Regions from separate parts of the Homo sapiens genome. Here regions 1 and 3 are each linked to region 2. The links come from fine-mapping of genetic effects on gene expression. A gene starts in region 2. Each other region holds a variant in brackets. All regions are shown on one strand. Distances are between the middles of the regions.

Region 1 (2,758 bases), 100 kb after region 2:
TGTCTTTTTAGTAGAGACGGGATTTCACCGTGTTAGCCAGGGTGGTCTCGATCTCATGACCTCGTGATCCGCTCGCCTCGGCCTCCCAAAGTGCTGGGATTACAGGGGTGAGCCACTGTGCCCGGCCTAGTTTGTCTTTCAAAACTACATGAGGCTAGACGCGGTGGCTCACACCTGTAACCCCAGCACTTTGGGAGGCCAAGTCAGGTGGATCGCTTGACTTCAGGAGTTCGAGACCAGCCTGGCTGACATGGTGAAACCCCATCTCTACTAAAAATACAAAAATTAGCCAGGTGTGGTGGCGAGTGCCTGTAGTTTCAGCTGCACTCAAGAGGCTGAGGTGGGAGAATCGCTTGAACCCAGGAGCTGGAGGTTGCAGTGAGCCAAGATCACACCACTGCACTCCAGCCTGGGCAACAGAGTGAGACTCCATCTCAAAAAAAGAAAAAAAAAAAAAATATATATATATGTATATATATACCCACAAACATGCGCATTGCACTCCCGCCTGGGTGACGGATGGAGACTCTGCCTCAAAAAACAAAACAAAACACAAATAAAGCTACATGAGAGGCCAGGCACCGTGGTTCACGCCTATAATCCCAGCACTTTGGGAGGCTAAGGCGGGTGGATCACCTGAGGTCAGGAGTTTGAGACCAGCCTGCCCAATATGGTGAAACCCTGTCTCTGCCAAAAATACAAAAGTTAACTAGGCTTCATGGTGGGTGCCTGTAATCCCAGCTACTCAGGAGGCTGAGGCAGGATAATCGCTTGAACCCAGGAGGCAGAGGTTGCAGTGAGCCAAGATTGCACCACTGCACTCCAACCTGGGTGACAGAGTGAGACTCTGTCTCAAAAAAACAAACAAAAAAGAAAACTACATGCAAGGCCCACAATGATTACTTGTTATGTATGTATGTATTAATGTATCAGATGTACATTTGTAATATGTTTATCAATATATTTGTACTAAAAGGCAACTTTTTTTTTTTTTTTTTTTTTTTGAGACTGGGTCTCACTCTGTCGTCCAGGCTAGAATGCAGTGGTGCGATCCTAGCTTACTGAAGCCTTGAACTGCTGTGCTCAAGCAATCCTCCTGCCTCAGCCTCCTGAGTAGCTGGTACCACAGGTGCACATCACTGTGCCCAGCTAATTTTTAAAAAATATTTTTTGTGGGCCGGGCGCGGTGGCTCAGGCCTGTAATCCCAGCACTTTGGGAGGCTGAGGTGGGCGGATCACGAGGTCAGGAGATCGAGACCATCCTGGCTAACTCAATGAAACCCTGTCTCAACTAAAAATACAAAAAATAAGCCAGGCGCGGTGGCAGGTGCCTGTAGTCCCAGCTATTTGGGAGGCTGAGGCAGGAGAATGGCATGAACCCAGGAGGCAGAGCTTGCAGTTAGCCGAGATCCTCCAGCCTGGGTGACAGAGCGAGACTCCATCTCAAAAAATATATATATAT[A/T]TTTTTTTGTGGAGACAGGGTCTCCCTTTGTTGCCCATGTTGGTTTCAAACTCCTGGACTTAACCAATCCTCTTATCTCAGCCTCCCAAAGTGCTGGGGTTACAGGCATGAGCCACCACCCTCCCTCCTTTGAGTAAAATGAAGGGCATTAGGTGTTTTGATTTTTGACAGCTACTTTCAGGGTCCTGGAGCCTGTTAGCTTGCTTCCTGGCCCTTGCCTCTATGTTCTAGGTGAGTGGCACCTCAGATAATTGATTTTTGAGTAGGTAAAGGCACTACTAGGCAACGTGAACCCAGCTTTCCAACAGCTCCCTGACCCGGGACTAGGAGGCATGTCTTCTCTCACCTTCTGGAGGATCAGTGGACAGCTTACGTGTCCCTAATCCCTCTGGAAGTCAGCAGTTATTAAGCTCTCTGACCGGGAGACCTCTGTAAAGGTGATCCTCCTAATCTAGGAGGATGAGCTGCTTTAGATCAGCTCTGATACTCGACAGAAAGTCTCAGAAGGGCTGGGCAGAAATAAAGCTAGAGTGGGAACATGATACCATTACGTAGAAATAATTTTAAATGTTTAATATGTTGATGACAACCTGGATTGAGAAGTTTGCTTTAAGAATTGCAACTGAAGGCTGGGTGCGGTGGCTTACGCCTGTAATCCCAGCCGAGGCAGGCAGATTGAGCTCAGGAGTTCGAGACCAGCATGGCAAAACCCTGTCTCTACTAAAAATACAAAAAAGTAGCCAGGCATGGTGGTGCACACCTGTAATTCCAGCTAATGGGAAGGCTGACGCACGAGAATTGCTTGCATCTGGGAGGCAGAGGTTGCAGCGAGCTCCAGCCTGGGTGACAGAGTGAGACTCTCTCTCAAAAAAAAAAAAAAAAAAAAAATTGCATCTGAAAAATAATAGGATGGGAGCCTGCACTTAGTTTTTAGTTCTGTGATAAATTTTGTAATAAAGTGCAGGTGAAAAGGTTTTTATTTGTTCTTAAACTCATTGACACCTGTATCAAAACATCTAGTTTGATATTAAAAGTGTCAGAGTTATCAACAAAACTTGAGAGAGCGTTACTCCAGCTTTAGGTCAGCTTTAAGAAGCCACATATGTTCACAGCTGAAATAGTTAAAACCTGTGTTTTGAGGCGCTGTGGCTTATGTCTGTAATCCCAACACTTTGGGAGGCCAAGGTGGGCGGATCACTTGAGGCCAGGAGTTGGAGACCAGCCTGGGTAACATGGGGAAACCCCATCTCTACTAAAAATACAAAAATTAGCCAGGTGTGGTGGCACGTACCTGTA
Region 2 (2,758 bases):
TGCAGGGGACACCCGCACCGGCCTGACCAGGAGCCCCTTCTGCCCCTGTGTCCAGGGAAGGGTCAGAGGTACCCCCTGCACCCATTCCTCCATTGGCAGCCTTTCAAGGTGAGTGGTAAGAGAGGAGGCCCCCAGCGGAGAGCAGGCTTCCAGGACAAGGGGTCACACGCCAGGGGTTTGCAGGGCCAGCAGGGCTCTGCCAGGCAGCTAACAGGGGCAAGGGCCAGACAGGCAGGAGCCAGCGTGCGAGGGAACAGCAGCAGCTGCAGGGCCAGGCGGGCCAGGCAGCGGCCCTGGAGCCTGGCAATGGACACCAGGTGAGGCAGGTGAAGGAAGCCGAGAGCAGGGTGGGGAGGAGCCCAGCCCTGGCCCGGGAAAGGCTTCCAGCCCAGGATTGGGATACAGCCCAGGAAGCAGAACCCTGGGCTCCAGCCTGTGTGGCATTCCGGAGGGAGAGTCCAGCACCGGGCCACACCTGCCTGCCACCACTGCTGCTGCCCATCTGGGAGCCAGCTTTCAGAAAGGGCTGCTCCACCCTGGCCCCGGAACAAGGGCTGTGTTGGTGGCAGCAGGGCTTGGCCCCCTCTTCTACCTCAGCCCCTTCCTGCCCAGGCTCCGTGGCAGGTCATTGCACCTCCAGGTTCCAGCTCAACCTACCCAGCCAGCCCACCAGAGACTCCATCGGGCACAGAGAGCAGCCTTACCATGTCGGTGGTTGTCTGACAGGATTCTGCAGGGTGGTGACACCAGGGCTGCTGTGGGCAGAGTGCTGGGGCAGTGGTGGCAGCTGAGTTTTAGCTGGGCCTGGCTGCCTGGGGTCCCCGGGGTCCAGATTCCAAGAGCCTTTTATGGGTGGGAAATCCTGCCGGCCCTATTTTGGGACAGGCTCTCGGCCTTATCCACAGGGCCCCTTCCCGGCCCGCTTTGGCCTGGGCTTCCCCTGACCCTGAAGATGGGCACCGAAGGCTAAGTGCGGGGGCCAGGAAAGGGCTGAGACATGGCGGGACCCTCACACACGCTGTTCCCCGTGCTGTTCCCTCTTCACTGGACCAAGCTCCAAGTCTACCTTCCCAGAGGTGCGGCCCTCCAGCAGGTCTTCATGGGACCCTGGTCCCATGCTGTCATCACTTACCAGTGAGATTTCTTGTTGAAGACCCATCCTGGCCAGCTGGTGCTCAGTGGCTCAGAGCCTGGCCACCCTCCCATCCTGGTGGACTCAACATTGGCCCCGTGCCAGCATGTCACAAACTCTCAGGACAGGTCGAATGAACAAATGCATGAGGCACCGCTTGACCATCTTGTACAGGAGGGGCTGAGGGTCCACCATTCAGGGAGGAGACAGCAGGACATGGGCTGGGGGTGAAGGGGGAAAGGGAGCAAAACAGGGCCTGGGGGCTGGGCTGCCCGCTGGAAGCCAGGCACAGTTGGGGGCTATTTTGGGGTTTCTCAGGGAAACCTGATCTCCCTTCCACTCAGAACAGCAAAGCTGGCTCCCGAGGGGGCCTGGTGCCCAGGCTGGTCCGTATCAACATGCCACCGTGGAGCACACGCCTGCACACGTGTGTTCCCTCCTCAGACCCGCACTGAGCCCTCCCTGTCTGGGTCTAATTACCCACCAGACTCCCAAAGCCAGGGTCCAGCTCCTCCCTGCCCCACCCAGGCAAGAGTGTGAGGATTGCAGTGGCAGGTCAGGGCCCTCAGGGTCACACTCACACCTGCCCCCCGACTGGCCCCTTGATGGCATGAAGAGTCTGAGCAGGTGGGGCACTCAGTGTCCCCCGCCAGCCCAACCCTCTGCCTGCCAGCAAACCTGCAGCTACAGGATGGCTCCCGCTGAAACCCAGGCCAGCTGCTGAGACTGCAAGATTGACGCTGACGAGGGCAGGCCAATGGCCCAGGGCACCTCCAGCCAAACGGGAGCCGGGGCTGGAGGGAAGCGGCCCTGGGTCTGGTGGGGCCAAGGGAGGCCCTGACCTTCATCCTGGCTGCTCCCTGGCCTCAGCTTTCCCCTGGGCTGGGGCAGGGAACAATTCACGCACTGAGCACCTTCCCCCAGGGGCATAGAATGGAGGGAGCCGCAGCACCCAGGCCAGGGCCCATCCTGGGTTCTGGCTCAGGGTCTCCAGGTACAGGCCAGCTGGGTACAGAGACACAGAGAACTGCACTGGCCTCGTGGCCCTGGACAAGTCCCCACCCCAACAACTCTCACAGCCAGTGGACAGCAGGCTCTGCCTCCTCCGTTCCCAGGCTTCCAGCGTCTGACATTCCTGGGCCACAGCCCTGAAGGTTCCAGACATCCTGATGGGCTTACGAGTGAAACTCAAAGCTGTGACCCCTGGAGCCCAACTTAAAGCAGAGGGCACACCCCCCGCCCCGCCCGTAGGAAGGGGCAACATGGCCACAACCACCATCAACCTCTCTCCTCTCCATCTAGGCTTCTACCCATATCCAAGACCCAGTACAAGCAGCAGAACAGGTCCTCGCCCTCTAACCCTCTCTCCTCATGCTGACCAGCCTCTGTGTGGCCTTCGGACATACCCCGTATCTCTAGGACCTGAGACTCATCCAATCTTTATTTTCCTTCTTGTGTCTCTTCTGATCACCGAAGGGCTATTCTCCATAAGAAAACAGAAAAAGAGGCTGGGCACGGTGGCTCACGCCTGTAATCCCAGCACTTTGGGAGGCTGAGGCGGGCAGATCACGAGGTCAGGAGATCGAGACCATCCTGGCTAACACAGTGAAACCCCGACTGTACTAA
Region 3 (2,758 bases), 140 kb after region 2:
ACTGAAGAGGGAGGTGATGCCTGGCCTTCCCATTCAGAACTGCCCAGACCCCTGTTTTCTTCATCTGCCCCTAAGTAGGTGGAGCCACATCTAAAGAAAGCCCCCTTCAGACCTGTAATCTGCTTAGGTTTAATGAGGTCACAGGGTGAAGCCCTGTGGTCACATGGCTGTAGCACTTTCCAGAAAGTCTTTCTCAGTTTGTATACTGCCAGTGTGCATGCCAGCACTGGGCATTATTTACCGGGGTGAGATGAGATGGGTAATTTAGTGGGCAGTAAGTTTTTTCCCACTCAGGGTTGAGGTTGAATGTTTCCCCATTTCTGTCACTAAATAAATTTTCCTTTTTCATTTAGTCTTGCAACAAATATTGATTGAGTTCTTACATGGGAACGAACTCGTGTATTATGTTTGTATTTGTGTGTGTGTGACTTTTGTTCATGTTCTTTGCACATTTATTTATTGGCATCTTAATGTTTTCCTTGCTACTTTGTATAAGTTCGTTATGAATATTTTCTTATTGTGCTCTAGTATTTTTTTCTAATAAAACTTCCTAATACAGAGGATTTTTTTTTTTTCTTTGAGGCGGAGTCTCACTCTGTCCCCCAGGCTGGAGGGCAGTGGCGTGATCTCAGCTCACTGCAACCTCTGCCGCCTGGGTTCAAGCGATTCTCCTGCCTCGGCCTCCTGAGTAGCTGGGATGACAGGCGCCTGCCACCGCGCCCAGCTAATTTTTTTTGTATTTTTAGTAGAGACGGAGTTTCACCATCTTGGCCAGGCTGGTGTTGAACTCCTGATGTCGTGATCTGCCCGCCTCGGCCTCCCAAAATGCTGGGATTACAGTCGTGAGCCACCATGCCCGCCCTACAAAGGTTTTTTAAAATTAGATTCATGCTATGAGGAATTTGAATGCACTTTGGTGCAGCTAGCATTGTGTGTCCTTTTAAAGCAGTTAATATATCAAACAAATGAATTAAGTGTCAGTCCTGACTCACCCTTGTCAAAAAATACAGTGGTGACCGCGCACGGTGGCCACGCCTGCAATCCCAGCACTGTGGGAGGCCGAGGCACAATGGTGGCCGCGCGCAGTGGCCACGCCCGTAATCCCAGCACTGTGGGAGGCCGAGGCATAATGGTGGCCGTGCGCGGTGGCGACGCCTGCAATCCCAGCACTTTGGGAGGCC[A/G]AGGCGGGCGGATCATCTGAGGTTGAGAGTTTGAGACCAGCCTGACCAACATGGAGAAACCCCTCCATGTTGGAGAATTAAGAGGCAGGTCTCCACTAAAAATACAAAATTAGCTGGGCGTGGTGGCGCACACCTGTAGTCCCAGCTACTTGGGAAGCTGAGGCAGGAGAATTGCTTGAACCTGGGAGGCAGAGTTTGCGGTGAGCCGAGATCGCGCCACTGCACTCCAGCCTGGACAACATCAGCGAAGCTCCATCTCAAAAAAACAAAAAATACACTGGTTGTGGTATTGGAGATACTTGTTAAATATATATATATGTGTGTGTGTGTGTGTATATATATACACACACACACATACATAGGTGAAGATAATTGTTTAAAGTTGGTTTTAATATTTAATATTATTTTATAAATTAGTTTACTGCTTAGTCATCAAATTGATCTTCGCAAATAAATATGAACAGAGCTTCTAGGCTGGGTGCAGTGGCTCATGCCTGTAATCCCAATGCTTTGGGAGGTCAACACAGGAGGGCCACCAGAGCCCAGGAGTTCAAGGTCAGCCCGTTCAAGGTAGCGAGACCCTGTCTCTACAAAAAATTTAAAAATTAGCTGGACATAGTGGCTCATGCCTGTAGTCTCAGCTACATGGGAGGATCCCTTAAGCCTGGGAGATTGAGGCTGCAGTAAGCTGTAATTGCACCACTGCACTCCAGCTTAGGTGACAGAGCAAGACCCTACCTCTCAGTCTCTCAATATCTCTATTTCTCTCTCTCTCTCACACACACACACACACACACACACACACACACACACACACACACACACACACAAAATAGAGCTTCTAGGTAATGTAGCAGTAATAATACATTTTTTTTAACATTTTGTGATTTTGATTTGTTTATTTTTTATTAATGTTTTTGTAGAGACGGGGTCTTGCTGTGTTGCCCAGGCTGGTCTCCAATTCCTGGCTTCAGGTGATTCCCCTGCTTCGGCCTCCCAAAGTGCTGGGATTACAAGTGTGAGCCACTGTGTCTGACCTTTATTAACTGTTTATTTTGAAATAATTGGCTGGGTGCGGTGGCTCACACCTGTAATCCCAGCACTTTGGGAGGCCGAGGCGGGCGGATCACCTGAGGTCAGGAGTTTGAGGACCAACCTGGTCAACATGGTGAAACCCCATCTCTACTTAAAATACAAAAATTAGCCGGGTGTGGCGGCGGGCACCTGTAATCCCAGCTACTCAGGAGGCTGAGGCAGGAGAATTGCTTGAACCCTGGAGGCAGATGTTGCAGTGAGCCAAGATTGCGCCATTGCACTCCAACATGGGGGACAAGAGCGAGACTTCGTCTGGGGAAAAAAAAAATAATCATAGACTAATTCATAGGAAGTTGTAAAAATAGTACAGAGAGACCCCTGTGCCCTTCACCAGCTCCCTCTGTGTTAACATCTTTTTTTTTTTTTTTTTGAGATGGAGTTTGGCTCTTGTTGCCCAGGCTGGAGTGCAATGGCGTGATCTCAGCTCACCGCAACCTCCCCCTCCCAGGTTCAAGTGATTCTCCTGCCTCAGCCTCCCGAGT

Direction of the effects. Positions count from the first base shown, and alleles are read on the strand shown. Sizes are in standard deviations (SD) of each study's normalised expression.
With allele A in place of T in region 1, the expression in visceral fat of the gene that starts at base 1,180 in region 2 is higher (small effect, 0.40 SD a copy in GTEx).
As copies of A replace G in region 3, the expression in aorta of the gene that starts at base 1,180 in region 2 goes up (moderate effect, 0.47 SD a copy in GTEx).

The links. PIP is the estimated chance that this variant, and not a neighbour inherited with it, causes the effect.
Region 1: its variant is fine-mapped to the expression of CALML6 in visceral fat (GTEx, PIP 0.98).
Region 3: its variant is fine-mapped to the expression of CALML6 in aorta (GTEx, PIP 0.98). The same link has a PIP of 0.9 or more in stomach.

Annotation. Positions count from the first base shown.
Region 1 is chr1:1,808,782-1,811,539 of GRCh38, reverse strand. All of the region lies in intron 5 of GNB1 (G protein subunit beta 1), which reads left to right. Among named protein-coding and RNA genes, the nearest start is that of NADK, 32 kb to the right of the region's middle. The variant A/T (reference allele first, on the strand shown) is at 1,463.
Region 2 is chr1:1,913,682-1,916,439 of GRCh38, reverse strand. It overlaps CALML6 (calmodulin like 6), which reads right to left and starts at 1,180. Exons shown (of 6, transcript NM_138705.4): 1 at 1,133-1,180; 2 at 705-755. The coding sequence starts at 1,159. RefSeq lists an enhancer at 1,673-2,359.
Region 3 is chr1:1,772,930-1,775,687 of GRCh38, reverse strand. The region is part of intron 1 of NADK (NAD kinase); the gene reads left to right. Among named protein-coding and RNA genes, the nearest start is that of NADK, 4.2 kb to the left of the region's middle. RefSeq lists an enhancer at 1,079-1,580. The variant A/G (reference allele first, on the strand shown) is at 1,182.